2 separate regions of the Homo sapiens genome follow, and region 2 is linked to region 1. The links come from fine-mapping of genetic effects on gene expression. A gene starts in region 1. The other region holds a variant in brackets. All regions are shown on one strand. Distances are between the middles of the regions.

What was found.
Region 2: its variant is fine-mapped to the expression of SLC25A4 in whole blood (TOPMed, PIP 0.97).

What each region holds. Positions count from the first base shown.
Region 1 is chr4:185,139,054-185,147,390 of GRCh38, forward strand. SLC25A4 (solute carrier family 25 member 4) reads left to right here and starts at 4,213. Exons shown (of 4, transcript NM_001151.4): 1 at 4,213-4,430; 2 at 5,711-6,197; 3 at 6,706-6,846; 4 at 7,761-8,337. The coding sequence starts at 4,320. The coding sequence ends at 7,918. RefSeq lists a silencer at 3,985-4,284.
Region 2 is chr4:185,461,338-185,469,674 of GRCh38, forward strand. It overlaps CCDC110 (coiled-coil domain containing 110), which reads right to left. Exons shown (of 7, transcript NM_152775.4): 3 at 1,657-1,712; 4 at 1,306-1,371. Among named protein-coding and RNA genes, the nearest start is that of CCDC110, 6.2 kb to the right of the region's middle. The variant C/T (reference allele first, on the strand shown) is at 3,687.

The DNA.
Region 1 (8,337 bases):
AACAAAACTTTTTGTTTCACGAACATTCATAAAACGTAAAAAGTACAAGTTCCGGTGGAGGCAACACACTGAAAGTCACTCTGCTGGAAGTACAACCAGAACCCCCTCTTGGGTCCTTGTCCTTGCCAGGCTGCGTTGGAATTGCCTGTAGGCACCACAGCTATGTCTGTTCCTGGCATGTAAGCTTCTCCACATAGCCTGGGCAACATAGCAAAACCAGGAGACCACAGCAAAACCTGCAAATTAAAAAATATATATATCCGGGCATGATGGTATGTGCCTGTAGCCTCAGCTACTCAGGAGGCTGAAGCAGGAGGATCCCTTGTGCCTAGGAGTGCATGGTTTCAGTGATCTGTGATTGTGCCACCGTGCTCCAGCCAGGGTGACAAAGCAAGATGCTGTCTCTAAAATAAATAAATAAATAAATGCACATATAAATATCTTGATCCTCTTCGCTTAATGCTGAAACTTACCATGTGAACAAACACTAGTAGTGTGTTCTAATTCCTAATACTTTAAATGTACACTTGCACACAGGCATTATGTTATCACCACCATTAGCACATCCTTTATTGTTTTTCTTTATTCCTTGTCACTCTTACTCTTTAGCAACTTCCATTCTCTATTCCCAGTTTGGTAAGAGACTAAGTCTATAAGAGCTTCCACTAAAATTCCAAAAGGCTAACTTTCCACCCTGCTCTCATTTCTACATGGCCCTGTTCCCACCAGCATCTAAGATCCCATCCACGATTGAAAGTAGAGTTTCTTCTCATCTCCTAGATGCCTTGTCCATTCTCCTGCTGGAAGAAAGCCACTAAGTACTGGGTTGGGCGGGTGGACACATGTTCTGCCGAGCGCCATTCTCTCCCCTGCCTGTGTAAGTGATACCAGGATCTTGTGACCACAGGCAGCTCATGCTCCCGAGGGCATGTAAGGCCTCTCTTTTCTGAGAAAGTCCGTGGAAGCAGAGGACAGTGTATGAGTTTCCATGGAAAACCTCTTGTCAAGGATTCCAGCTATGACTCCTTCTATAGAACAGGATAACTGGAGAGTAGCCAAGGAGAAATATATCTCCCATTTAGAAAATATCCAAAACTCTGATTGGTAAAATTAAGTGTAACAAAGATGATACTACTTCCTGAATTCATATATTAATTAATATTTAATTTAGTTTAAATGTCTATTTAAAATCTTCTGGTGATGTTTAAACAATTGAACAACTTGATAGTAAAAATAAATCCAGACACATAAGCAGATAAAACTTTATTTTTTAAGTGATTGTAGAATCATATATCAGCCTATTTTTAAAAAATGAAGATCAAATAAATATGTCATAGTGTGGATATTTCATAAATTAAAGCTATTATGAGAACTTAATATATGACAAACTAGACTTAGTAATATAAGACAAATAATGGAGAGAAGAAAATATCTACTTAAGAATTAGTATTGGGATACCCAAGCATGATATGGAGAAAAGTGAAATTAGACCCATACCTCCATACAATATAAAACGTAGTGTTAGACATTTTAAAAATAGCTACTCAAAGTAGAAGAAAAAAACTGATATATGTACTAGAGTAAATAGACTGCTATATCTATAAAAGAGATACATTTACATCAGAACATGAAATAGATCATCATCATACCATAGATCTGTTCATAACACTAATAGAATGATATAATAAATATCAAAAGGAAAACAACAAAATGAAAAACATTCAACACATATTTATTGTCCCAAATATATAAAGAATTGTTGTTAATATAAATACTCTGCTTTCACTCCAGCAGTAGTCAAGGAAGATTAAAAGTTTATACAAAAGGGAAACCTTGTCAAACTGTCAAATTAAATTGAATCATATGGAATATATACAGCTTCATAGTAATTAAGTAAATACAAACTAAAACTCATAAATAACTCACAAATAACCAACTCTCTATTTTTTTAAAGCCAGTGTTGGAGAAGAGTGTGAGAGAAAGCCCATCTATATAACTGGTGGGTTGGTATTTCTGAAGAGCAATTTGTCAATATGTAGCAAAAGCTACAAAACTTTAAAAATCTTAAATCTATCCATTCCATTTGGGAAATATATGAGAAGAAAAAACTTAGAGGAGAAAATGAAGTTTGTGTAAGTTTCAATGTAGCAGTATTAGTTTTCCTTCCTTCCTTCCTTCCTTCCTTCCTTCCTTCCTTTCTTTCTTTCTTTCTTTCTTTTTTTTTTTTTGAGTCAGAGTCTTTCTCTGTTGCCCAGGCTGAAGTGCAGTGGAGTGATCTCAGATCACCATGACCTCTGCCTCTCGGGGGTCTCGTGCCTGAGCCTCCTGAGCTGCTGGGATTCCAGGCATGAGCCATCACGCCAGGCTAATTTTTGTATTTTTAGTAGAGATGGGGTTTTGCCATGTTGGCCAGGCTGGTCTCGAACTCCTGACCTAGGTAATCTGCCAGCCTCAGCCTCCCAAAGGTATGAGCCACCACACCCGGCCTATTTTTCATCATAAAAATAAGACACAATTCTAATGCACAATTAAAAGGAAAATGGAGGTATAAAAGCAAGTGCTCTATATTACAGGATGGGATACAGTACACTATTATAATTAAAAAGGTTTACTGTGTGGATTATGCTGATCCATGGAAATCAGTAAGTGAAGTTTTGATAAAGTGGAGCAAGTGACGAATACACTGAACTGTAAGGTCTTTGGAGATGGGCCACGTCTACTTATATTCAATCCACAGGGCTACACCTAGTTCTTGGTACACAGTACATGCTCAGCAAGAGTCTGTTGAATGAACACATACATGGTTTATCTGTTTGTCTCTTCCGAGTTCTTGACTTCTGTCTGCTCTGACCTCTGGCAGCTTTCCACTAGTTTCTAGCTTTCATTCTGCTTACCTGGATTTCGGAACTCTAGCCTGCCCCACTCTTAGATAAACGCATGCCCTCTGTGGCCCTGGAACCTTAGTGACTTCTGCTATACCAAAGTCTCCACGCCCAGGGTGACACGCAGCTGCAGCTCCGTAAACCTCTAACATGATGTCAGCAAATATTAAAAAAAAAAAGTTTATAAAACAATGAATAAACTTTGTTAAAGGTACAAATGAAAATTAGCAAACATGGGAAGATAATTGAGTGAAGAGTTTAAAGTTAAAAACGAATTGCAGTCATTCTAGGGGAAGGAACAGTTGTATTTGAAAACCTGTATGGTTACATGAACTGCCTAAAAAACAAGCTAAGGAAAATTAAAGCTCAGATTTATATATTTTAAGAAATTAATTGCAATTAATTTCCTGGGATTAAATAGCATTTCCTCAACCCCAGCTGTCATTAAAAAGAGGCAAATACAGCCAAGGACTGGATCTCCGGAAGGCTGACAGCACTGACCCTCAAGAAGGCACCGGCTGACAGACAGAACATTCTGCCCTAATATGTGCTGAAATTCCGCTGAGAGCAGAGTGGTACATTGAACCCTTTAGGGGCTTACAAAAGAAGTGTCCTGTGTTTTAGAGTCACAGAGTTTTGCAGAAACAAGTATGAATTCACCTAGTGGCCCCCTGCACCAGGTCTTTCCTGTGGGCACTGAGTGCCAGACACATCAATATGTAATAGCAGAATGAATGACTGAACGAACGATTGAATGAAAAGAAATGAGAGGCAGCAGGTTGTCAGATTCTATGAGGCAATCACAGCATCAGGTGACCTTAGTATCTATTTGAGAGGACTGCCATTTATTCTCGGGAGCGCACGGCTCTAAAGAGGCCCATATCCAGGCAGTGAGCTCTGGTGGGGGGCGCCTTTAGATGCAAGAAGGAGGAAACAGCTCGAAATCCCTGGGCCTGAGCGCGGCCCGTGCAGGCCGGAGGGTCAAGAACTCTCCACCGGCGGCAGCGGCCCGGTGTCTGCCCCGGCTTCGCCCCGGCCTAAGGCTGCCTGTGCTATAAATACGCGGCCCACATGCCGCGGTGACACGGTGTTCCCTGGGCTCGGCGGGACAGATAACATGAATGTGCCCTTTAAACGTCCCAAGTTGCAGGGACAGCCCCCGGCCCAGCCTCGCTCCCGGAAGCGCCTTCGCCCCCGATGCCCTCTGCAGCTGGGAGGAGGGGGCGCCCCGCACCTGCCCAGCCAATGCGCGGCGCGAGCGCCGGCCGCGACCCGCCTCCTCTCGCGAGAGCCCGGCGGGGATATAAGGGGGAGCTGCGGGCCAGGCGGCGGCCCCCTAGCGTCGCGCAGGGTCGGGGACTGCGCGGCGGTGCCAGGCCGGGCGTGGGCGAGAGCACGAACGGGCTGCCTGCGGGCTGAGAGCGTCGAGCTGTCACCATGGGTGATCACGCTTGGAGCTTCCTAAAGGACTTCCTGGCCGGGGGCGTCGCCGCTGCCGTCTCCAAGACCGCGGTCGCCCCCATCGAGAGGGTCAAACTGCTGCTGCAGGTGAGGACCGCGCGGTGCAAGAGGCGGGCGCGGGCGCGGCGGGCCGGGCGGGGCGCGCGATGCGGCGCGAGCTGCAGGGCGCGGGGCGCCGCGGAAAATCTGCGCCAGGCCACAGGCCCGGGCGCCCGCCCGCCCGCCCGCCCGCCCGCGGGGGAAGAAGGTGCCCTCTGCGTAGAGACAGGTCCAGCGTCAGTCGCAGATTCCTGGTGTCGGGTGGCGCCCGGCGTTCGGGTGTCTATATATGGAAACCCACCCGGAGCCGGTTTACGTGTGCCAGATCCTGCGCCCGTGACAGCACGGGCGTGCACTCAGGCCCGGAGGCACCTAGTGATTGCCAGTATTTTTGGCACCGTCTTATGCGCACGCACCTTTACAATAAAAACATCAAAATAATCATCACCCAAGAATTCCCTTATCGTATCTCATGCACAATGCTGTATGTAGGCTGACGCCTTCATCTTTATGTAACCTCTGTGAGAGAGTTATTCTTCTCCATTTTACAGATGAAGCTGAGGTTTTGAAATATTAAGAAACAATTTTCGGAATAAACTCAGATCATCCTGTCTCCAAATCTTTTCCTCCCCTACCTGGTCGCTGAATGGTTTATCATCCTCTCGTGTTTTCCTCCACCTGCCCAAAAGGTCAGGGCCCCTCAATGAGGAAGAGCCCAATTTGGGAGTCAGAATTACTAACAACAAAACCCCCACAAATTGCTCACAACGGCAGCAAACCCTTAATAATTGATTACTTGGATTATCTGCTTGAAAACTTTGGAGGCCTAATGTTTAGTGGATTTATTCTCCTTCCTCTATTAGAGCATCTAGTAGAGATCCTCATCTCCAGGGTGATCAGAGTGACACTGAGAAATTGTCATTTTTTGGCCATCATGTCTATTAAATCCAAAGCCCTTTGAAGCAGGGAGTGTTACTCATTTCTGTCCCCCAGTAAGCCCCTCATACAGTTCTCAAACCTAGGGAAAGTGAAATAAATAAATGGCTATAGCTTTATATAATTCAATCACCTTTTCAGTTTATTTGGGGCAATACCTTTTCCCTCAAATACCCTAATAATTGAAGCAACATTGGATTATTTTGGCTTGTTATCCAGTAACTAACATGGATAACAGTATCCATTTACACGTCCTCAGTATCCATTTGATTTCCTCATCCTTTTTTTCTTCAAAAAAAAAATCTAGGAAGTGCAAACCTTTTTTTTTCTCCTGTCCTCTTCCCTTCTCTCTACCCTGCCTGTCCTCTGTCACCCACCCTCCCCTCCACCAGGTCCAGCATGCCAGCAAACAGATCAGTGCTGAGAAGCAGTACAAAGGGATCATTGATTGTGTGGTGAGAATCCCTAAGGAGCAGGGCTTCCTCTCCTTCTGGAGGGGTAACCTGGCCAACGTGATCCGTTACTTCCCCACCCAAGCTCTCAACTTCGCCTTCAAGGACAAGTACAAGCAGCTCTTCTTAGGGGGTGTGGATCGGCATAAGCAGTTCTGGCGCTACTTTGCTGGTAACCTGGCGTCCGGTGGGGCCGCTGGGGCCACCTCCCTTTGCTTTGTCTACCCGCTGGACTTTGCTAGGACCAGGTTGGCTGCTGATGTGGGCAAGGGCGCCGCCCAGCGTGAGTTCCATGGTCTGGGCGACTGTATCATCAAGATCTTCAAGTCTGATGGCCTGAGGGGGCTCTACCAGGGTTTCAACGTCTCTGTCCAAGGCATCATTATCTATAGAGCTGCCTACTTCGGAGTCTATGATACTGCCAAGGGTGAGAGAGGGGCATCGGGGAGAAGGAGGGTGGTGTGGAAAGAGGATCCTATGGGATCTATAACTCACAAAGGACCTGATATATATTGATCTTGTTTTTTCTAGTCTCTGGGATAATTGAGGCTTCTGAATGAGGAGGTGATGTGCATAAGTTAATAGCTGAAGCGTTCCTTGTGTCCTCTACTGAAATAAACTCTGGCCTTTAGTTATTCAGAGAGGAGGAGGGGGGAGCCTGTCTCCCTCTAGACACAGCCATAGCAGTTACTGAGTTTAACTTGAAGCCACTTCCAATGCCCTGTATACAAGCTGAGCACTGCCCCTCCGGGGTCCGGAGAGGGCAGCAGCCACCTTTGCTGTCTGCCTGGTCATATGTGAAGCACCTGCACAGGGGCAGGTTCCCCGCAAGGTCAGAGCATGGAGCTGGAGGTGCAGTGGCCTCTCTCCCTCCACCTGCTTTCTGCTGAGAACAGGCACTTCATAGCCGTTCGGCTTCTGGGCTCTGTCCACAGGGATGCTGCCTGACCCCAAGAACGTGCACATTTTTGTGAGCTGGATGATTGCCCAGAGTGTGACGGCAGTCGCAGGGCTGGTGTCCTACCCCTTTGACACTGTTCGTCGTAGAATGATGATGCAGTCCGGCCGGAAAGGGGGTAAGCTTGTGCTCTACTCATCTAAACTTGTTTGGTTTTGCCCGAGGAGAACATTTTACAGGGCTCCTTTCAGTCTTCCTTACTGGAAATTAATTTTCAAAATTATTTGATAAGGACTTAGGGAAGAAAGATGGTATTAATTCCCCCTAACGTTCTCAACTATCCTATTAGGGAAAAGTATTTTCCATTTTATTAGAGATGATAAGAACATGAATAGTAAGACATTTAGATGTGAATTTAACTAGGTATCCAGCATTATAGAGACCCTAGGCCCTCTTCCCTTAGAGCCTGGGTGCAAAAGCTAGGGAAAAGAAGTAGTTAGCTACTTCTTACAAAGAACTCTTGCTTCCCTCCTAGTTACAGGTGTTAGTGGGATGGGGTGTTTAGCTGGGTAGAGATGGCCTGAAGCAATCTGTTGTGCCAGAGAAAGTTTTGGCTTCTATAGGTTGAACCATACGAAATTGCCACTTTAAAAGTCAAAAACAGTCCAATGTTAGCAGTTTCGTATGTTTCAACGAATAGTTACAGCCTTTTATTTAGACTGCATAACCTCGTGCAGGATCATCTGAGGCTCGGCCTCAGTTCGGTCCTCCATAAAAAAAGGTAACCGCGTAGCATAATACTCCTGCTCCACTGCGCCCTTCTTGTTTCGCAGTTGGGCAGTCCATGAATTACTTGGTTAATTGCCCCAGTTCTTCACTGACCTTGAACTAATGGAGTAGGAATGACAGGAGACCCAGCCTGCCAGTGAAGCAAGGAAGGAGATGTCCAGTGGGATGTTGCATGGAGCTGGGACTCCATGCCCAGATGACCCTGATTTTATAAAACTGGTAACAGTGTGTACAGATATGTTTCAGGGGAAAAGTCTCTTTCCTCCAGCGTTACGGAGCCCTCACCAGCATTTGTTTCCACAGCCGATATTATGTACACGGGGACAGTTGACTGCTGGAGGAAGATTGCAAAAGACGAAGGAGCCAAGGCCTTCTTCAAAGGTGCCTGGTCCAATGTGCTGAGAGGCATGGGCGGTGCTTTTGTATTGGTGTTGTATGATGAGATCAAAAAATATGTCTAATGTAATTAAAACACAAGTTCACAGATTTACAGTGAACTTGATCTACAAGTTCACAGATCCATTGTGTGGTTTAATAGACTATTCCTAGGGGAAGTAAAAAGATCTGGGATAAAACCAGACTGAAAGGAATACCTCAGAAGAGATGCTTCATTGAGTGTTCATTAAACCACACATGTATTTTGTATTTATTTTACATTTAAATTCCCACAGCAAATAGAAAATAATTTATCATACTTGTACAATTAACTGAAGAATTGATAATAACTGAATGTGAAACATCAATAAAGACCACTTAATGCACGCTTTCTATTTTATTGAACTCTTATTAACTGTAAAATGCATTTTTAAAAGATCAAAAATGCATATTTTCTAGCATGATTCATGTATCAGTCAGCAGCCAAGCTTCTAAATGCCAGATA
Region 2 (8,337 bases), 320 kb after region 1:
TTAAGAAAATTATGCCTTGTTATAATCAGAAGCAATTTAGTAAAACAAAGTTTTATGAACTATATTCAAATGATTTTAGGTGTCTGATTTTTACATTGTTGAATAAGAGACCTTTGGAATCTATTCTGTCCCCCTTAGGAGGAGTTATCTTCCCTTCCTATTTCCCTGCAGGTGCTTTTAGTATAAGAATATTGGGATGAAGTTTACACTGGGTCTTTAGTGAATATGTGTGTGTTACATACCCCCAATATCTATACTCTAGACTTCTGTTTATACTTCTCCTTATTTCTTCTGGATGAAGCGTGGTTATGGTAGTATTGATTCTGCCTCTAACTCCCAGGGGCACCTGACTGAGTGCTAACTAGTCAGGGAACAGCGGCCACCTGACAGTGATTGGTTCAAGCATTGCATGTGACCCAGTCGGGATCCATCTGAATCAGGCCAAGAGCCTCAGTCTAAACTATTGTGAGCAAAGTGTAGCCGGGTGCGGTGGCTCACGCCTGTAATCCCAGCATTTTGGGAGACTGAGGTGGGCAGATCACCTAAGGTCGGGAGTTTAAGACCAGCCTGGCTAATGTGGCGAAACCTGGTCTCTACTAAAAATACAAAAATTAACCAGGCATGGTGGTGGGCACCTGTAATCCCAGCTACTCAGGAGGCTGAGGCAGGAGAATTGCTTGAACCCAGGAGGCAGAAGTCGCAGGGAGCCAAGATCATGCCACCACACTCCAGCCTGGGTGACAAAAATGAAACTCCTTCTCAAAGCAAAGTGTACTCTCTTCTCTGACTTGAATTTGGAAGGAGAAAGAACTGGACCTTCTAGCAGATCTTCTGCCACCACAGGGAGTCTGAGAATCCCCTACTGTGGAAAGCAGAATCAGGATACAGAGTGAGACCTATTTTGACGACACAAGACCTGATCATGTGGACTCAGCCATCCTGAAGTGAGCTCTCTCCAGGACTTTCATTTACTTGAGCTATTAAAGTGTATTTTTTCCCTAAGCCAGTTTGAATTAGACTTCATGTCACCTATAATGAGGGTCCCTATTTGTAGTCTATATATAGACTTTAAACGTGTATTGAAAAAATCAGCGAGTGCTATCTCTTTGGGCTTGTTTCCAAATACAAGTATAACAGAGAGAAGAATGTAGTTTCTTTAAAATAAATTTTGAGCCTAGAATATGCTGTGGCCTCTATTATATTAAATTCTGTGTCAGCTAATCCATTGGCTAGTGACCATCAGCTTAGAAGATGGGATGATACTTCAAGGTGAGATATTTCATATATAGATCAAAAGAAACATACCATGCTGACATTCTGCAAAGTCTGCATTCGCAAAGCCTGAAATGATTCCAACTGCTGCTGAAGGACCTATGACAAAAGTAAAGTATGAAATTGAGTATTTTTAGGTAGGTAAACGTATTCTTGAATTGTTATGATTTTATGTCTCCCAAAGTTGCCTATTACTTGAAAAGATCCCGTGAGGGTCAGGTGGTTCACATTCTTAGGCATTTTGCTAACTCCCCAATGTGCTTTCATGGAGATCCTTGTGAGGATAAAGTGAGAGAACCCGTTTGCATTTAGGGAGTATTTATTCTGAAAAAGATCAGCCTTTACCCAGAATTTTGGAGATGATAAAATGGAATATAGACTCACTTTCAATGCTGATTGTGGTTGGATTTGATTTTCTGATTCTGCTATGCAGCCATATTCTAAGAAGCAAAATTGAAAAACCATGTGACTTAATTCTTAAATTTTATTTTTTAAAACCTGTAATAGAAAGCAGTCTCCTAACTTGCTTGGATAGTGAGGCAGAGATAATGAGAACTTCTGATATTCACACTATGCTAGTCACATAAGCTTAAGTGATAATTCTCGCTTGACTTAATATATCCACTTGAGGTTGTAATAGTGTCTTCACTTTTAGAGTACACCGTTAATTTGCAACACCACACTTAGAACTCTCAAAAACTCAAATATCAAATATCTTTGTTTCTGGGATATAAACTGCATTCAAAAAAAACCTAATAATGCTCATATTATGGGAGACCCTTGGCAAAGTAGTATACAGGCCTCAATTTCTGTGAAATTTCCATGTGACATTTTTCCCCTTATGGAAACCAAGTTGGATCAACAGCATAATTTTTGTCCTGGCTTAAGCACAGTACGCACTTGTGGCTTCCCTTGGGAAGGGCAGTTTCACATTCACAGTCTTTAGATCCCCTCTTGGCCATGTATGAATGGGCCTGGGCCTGGAACACTTCTTTACCAAGGGGACTCTTTTTAAAGTCCTCGTTCACAGCCTGTGCTGGACTTGCTACCATGTGTGGGGATAGCACTCCCCGCTTCAGACTCAGTGTGTACTCCTTTGTTCTGCTTAAGTGTGTGTGTCATATGATACCTGGCCAACCCTGCTACTCTGTCCCCTGCTAGATTATAGATGGGCCAGAAGGGGCCCTCTGGCCATGGGGAACCAACACCCACTACTGAGGCTGATCTTGCTCCGTCTCTTCATTCTGTGAGTAAAGGGTTGTTGCATCCGGTGCTTGACTGTTGTGTTTTGCTTGGCGACTCCGATACTAAGATACAGTAGACAGAAGTACTCCAGCTTCTTTTGATAATAGGCAGAATGTCACTTGCTTGATACCGTCCTGGATAGATTATAGATCTGCAACAGGGGGAGACTCTATCATGTTTGCAAATGCCCTTATATCCCTCTTTGTCTGCATGTTAGGCTGCTTGCTTTGTAAACTTTTTATTAAAGAGTGTATTCATAAAAGCTTTCAGTGTCCTAAGTAAAATGAGAGCTATGATGGAACGTTCCCCTAGGCTGATAATTTCTGCCCTAAGTTTTAAAAGAGGTCAGCGAATCTCCTTTGGATTGGCAGGCTGTCAGATGTTAGAGAAGCCGCTTGCAAAGTACAGGCACCCCTTCTGCTCTCTGACCCTCACCACCAAAGGGGCAACGCTGGTTTGGAGCCTGGAGCTGCCTGGCTATTGAAGAATCCCACCTTCAGTCAGAGGGTGGGGAGGGAGAGCGAGTCTGTCTGGATCTTGCTTAGCTTTGCCTCCACCTTCAGTCAGAGGGCGGATCTTGCTGTCTGGATCTTGCTTAGCTTTGCCTCTTCTTGGGAATAAAATGGCAGCTAAACTCCTGGTATCCTGAACTGTTCATCTAAAAAATAAGGAACTGAAGGAAGGCCCAGACCAGCATAGGAAGGAAACACAACGTTTTTCAGACTCTAAAGTAACCTCTTCTAATGAACTTAACTAGACCAAAGTGCAAATCGGGAAGAATATACCACCTAGAATCCTGCCACCCACAACGAACTGTTGTTAATTTTAGGTGCCATCTTTCGGTCAGCTCTCTATGCACATAAGTGGATGAAGTGGAATCATTTTATACATAAATGGTATTTTACATAAATATTGCCTATATTTACTTGAATTTAAGAGAATTTTTAAAACTGCAAGTAGTGGAAATTATTTCTAGTATTTGGATTTTTTTTTACTACATGAGAGATATTATTTCCTAAGAGATCCCTGTAAACTAATGAAAATTAACATGAAAAGAATTAAAGATTGAAACCTTTATTGTTTCAATAACATACAGTTCTATTGTATTCATTGTTGACTTACTCCCTGCCAAGAGAGATGAGAAAATTAGCATTCTATTTCCTTCCATG[C/T]CTACTTCCCTCTTTTCATGGTATTTGCTAGTTATGTGATTTATACACTGTGAAGGTTTATGTTTACATTCTGTTCTGTAACTGTAATTTCCACACAGCTCTTTATTTAAACACGAAGATAGGATATCATTCTCATAAATGTATTCAGCCTTCAACTCTATTCTGAGTGATGTAACTGTTCAAAATTCTATCTCCTTCCCATACCTACAGGAATAGCTTCCTTTTTCTGTACAGATTTCCTTTCATTAGGAGGATTTGCAAGTTCAAAGCTAAATATAAGATTCCTTTAGCTAAAACCAAATAAGAAATATGAGACCAAAAGAAATGTACAGACTTAATAAAGGGATACAGTAAATCAAAGATTTCAAAGAAAGCAATGGGATTTATACATGTTGTCTACATATATTTTCCATCTTCCATCTCTTCTTCCTTTTTTGGCCTCACCGTGATTGCACTGTTACTAAGCAGCTTAGTGGACCCATGGGAGCACAAGATGAGGACACGTCGGAGCAGGAGACAGGGGCTAGGTTATGCAGAGCCTCCAGGCCAAGCTGAGCGGGTTGGCTTTTCCTTCAAGTGAAACGGGGAACTTTGGAAGGTTTCCATCATGAGAATGATTTGATCTGACTGAAAAGTTTACAGGTCACTCTGCTACATGATAATAGAGTATGGGGTGGGGTGAGAAGGCAATTGCAGGGCTACCGCAATAATCTAAGTGGAGATGAAGATATCTTGGACTAGAATGGTGGTGGGGGAGGTGGGGAAAGCAGGTAGATTCAGAATATACTTTGGAGATGAAGCCAGCAGCATTGCTGGAGGATTCGTTGGGGCCAGGAGAGATGAATGAATGATGGCTCCTTGTTTTTTGGTGAGAGCAGATGGATGAGGGATGATGTCATTTACTGGGGGAAAACAGTAGAGTAGGAACATACTTTAGGAGAAAAACATTTTTAGATATGTTAAGGCTAGGTTGTCTGTTAAACATCAAAGAAGAGATATCCAATAGTCAGGTGGGTCTACCAGTGTATGATTCATGGGAGCAGCAATGAACACATCATTCAACATGGATGGGCCGGGTGCAGTGGCTCGCACCTGTAATCCCAGCACTTTGGGAGGCCTAGGCGGGCAGATCACGAGGTCAGGAGATCGAGACCATCCTGGCTAACATGGTGAAACCCTGTCTCTACTAAAAATACAAAAAATTTGCTGGGTGTGGTGGCATGTGCCTGTAATCCCAGCTACTCGGGAGGCTGAGGCAGGAGAATCGTTTGAACGTGGGAGGTGGAGGTTGCAGTGAGCCGAGATTGTGCCACTGCACTCCAGCCTGGGAGACAAGAGCGAAACTCCATCTAAAATAAATAAATAAACAAACAAACATAGATGTCACTGCTGGCCATGCAGAAGGACATGCATAGAAGCCCGAACGAAGTGCTTGAGGAGAGAATGGAATGTGGAGATTGGTGGGCATGGAGGATAGGTCACTGTTTCTAGTTTCACTGTGGAAGGGAAGACAGTGCATCCTGGAAGAGATGTGAAAGTCAAGAGGGATTTTTTTTCTTTTTTTGAGATGGAGTCTCACTCTGTTGCCCAGGCTGGAGTGCAGTGGCATGATCTTGGCTCACTGCAGCCTCCACCTCCAAGGCTCAAGCGATCCTCCCATGTCAGCCTCCGGAGTAGCTGGGACCACAGGTGTGTGCCACCACATCTGGCTAAGAGAAGGAATTTTTTTTTTTTTAAACCACAGGACATTCTAACATGCTTGTTTGCTGCTGGAATCACATAGTAGAAAGGGAGAAAAGCAATAATTCCGGACAATGAGGGAGGCTAATTGCAGAAGCTGGGACTTGAGAATTCCACAAGAGATGAGATCCAGAGGAAATCACTTTTGATTGATCAAGGACAATTCTTCCGTTGAAATGGGAGAAGACCTAGAATATGGGTTTCACAAATGTGAAGGGTGAGAATGAAGGAGTTTGGGTCTGAGTGCTTCTACTTTTTTCATATAGAGTGGGACCATGTTATGAGTGGAGCGGCCAGGGAGAAACGTGTTCAAGATTTGAGAACAGGAGGAGTGAAATAGCTTTTTTGCAGAGGATTTGAAGAAGAATTTTCTGTGGAAATAAAGTAAGTTTTCCCAATAGCATTGAGAGTGCATTTTAGATTCATGGTATGACTCAAAAGTGAGTGTTTTTCTCCAGCAAAGTTCAGATGATTCTGCACAGGCAGAGAGTAGGCAGGGAGTCGGATTCATCTATTTTTAAAAGCTATTAACATAACTTTCTGTTTTTCTTATGAGTTTCAGAGACATCGGCTGCTACTTATTCCCAAAGGAAAGGTAATTTAAAAACTAGGCAATACTTAGTCACACAGAATTACGTGATTCTAGAATTGGAAGGGAAATTATCAAAGAACCCAGGAGATAAAACACAATCACACTTCACCATTTACCAAGTCCCTGCTAAACATACAATATCGGGAGGCACATAAACAAAGCGGAAGGCATGGTCCCACCCACCAAGATGAGAGTTTATTGGGAATGTAAGAATATTACTCATCTCATATTCAACTTAAATTTTCCAGCTGCTTCATATTTCTGTCAAAAGTGAAAAACAAGGTAGTTATCAATGGGATGACTTTTGAGGTAATTTTTATTCTGAGCCTGCAAAAAATATTGTATTCAATGTATACAAAAAGTACCAACTGCATACCTGTAGCAAACAGACCAAGAGGAACCAATACATTCTGAAAATGCAACAGGGTAACGATTCTATATAAGATGTCAGGCTCTCTGCAAGCTTTGTAATTCTTAGTTTCTTCTCATTGCAACCTCTGCCTCCCGGGTTCAAGTGATTCTCCTGCCTCAGCTTCCTGAGTAGCTGGGACTACAGGCATGTGCCAGCACACCCGGCTAATTTTTGTATTTTTAGTAGAGACGGGGTTTCACCATGTTGGCCAGGCTGGTCTCAAACTCCTGACCTCAGGTGATCCTCCTGCCTCGGTCTCCCAAAATGCTGGGATTACAGGCGTGAGCCACCATGCCTGGCCGCAGGTTCTAATACTGAGTTCTGCTGTGACAATTCAAGTTCATTCCTAGATGTCCCTGTCTTACAAAGCTTTGTGAGGTGTGGCACCCTCTGCATGAGGCTTTGTCACAGTCATTATGCAAGGAGCTATGCAACAGGTTGCCTGCCGCCCAGATTTGAATTCTAGCTTTGCCACACACTCGCAGTGAGGGGATAACTCTAGGCGAGTGTCCAGTTTGTAGATAAAGCCCTTACTGAGGTGTACGAGGTGTACGGCACATAGTGAATGCTCAAGAGACACTAACTCATTACTGCAGAGGCAATATGATGATAATTTGGTAAATTCAAAATTTCTAGTCAAGACGGAGGGGAGAGAAGCCTTCTCAAAATTCTCCAGTGCTTCTCAATTTTCTCAGAATAAATCCCAAATTCATCCATGGAACTACAAAGCCCTGTCCTGGTTCCTCCCGCCTACCCTTCCCTACTTGTTCTGCTCCATTTACAAGAGCAACCGTTCCTCAATCACACCAGCCACGCTCCCACCACAGGGTCTTTGCAGTTGCCATTCTCTCTGCCTGCGGTGCTCTTTCCCTAGAAATCTGCACAGATTGCTTCTTTACTTCCTTCTGGTCTTGGCTCAGACGTGACCTGCTGAGTGAGCCCTTCTCCTACCACCCTGTTTAAAATGACACACTTCCCACCCACCTCTGCCACTCCAAATATTCCTCCCCCCCTTCTCAGCCTTATGTTCTCCATAGAATTTATTCCCCGCTTACACACAATAGCCTTTGTCTGTCTGTTCCCTCACTAGAAGGTAAGCTCCATGTGGGCAGGGAATCTTGCAAGTCTTGTTCACTGTTGGATCCCCAGCACCTAGAACAGCACTTGAAACTTAGCAGGTGCTCAAAAGAATATGCTCCACAAACGAATGAATGAATGAAAGCTCGGGTACAACAGGGTGCTGGGAACAACACCCTGGACACCCTCAAATTCAAAAGTCTCTCACAAACCCATTCCAATAAGGGTTAATTAGGTTAACCACTAGTTCTGAAATCAGAGACACCTTGGGAACATTCTATAACTCTTTGTAACCTGGCAGTAGTTATGCAAATCAGGTCATTATTTTCTCAGTACACGGGGAATGGATCACTTGGTGACAATGAAAGCATCAGTAGGAGAGTAGAGAGAAGGGCGCCAGCCATACCTCCTAGTTTTGCCTATAGTTGCAGGCAGGAAATTCCTGGGTGGCCCCTGACTCAAGATAACTGGTGTTTATTAAGAACCTGTCCTGTGTCAACCCCAGACCTGTAAACACTGTGTTCTGGCAAGAAAGACTGTAACTCTTAAACATGTACATGTGCTATTTTGCATGTAACTATTTTCTATAAATGTTGGCATCTTTCTCCAGAACCCTAAGCCTCATTCATGTCAAAAAACATGTGATCTTGCCAAATTAAGGTACTTCTATTTCTTCTGACCTTACATGCTCTCTTTGAGGTAAATACGGAGCTACCTCAATGTCTCAACTCTCTGTGAGGACTCTTTCTCCTTCGTTCAGGGGGCCCCTTTGCCCCTCCTGGTTGCCCAGGGAAACCTGCATATCTCAAGGGTGGAGGCAGGAGGGCGGA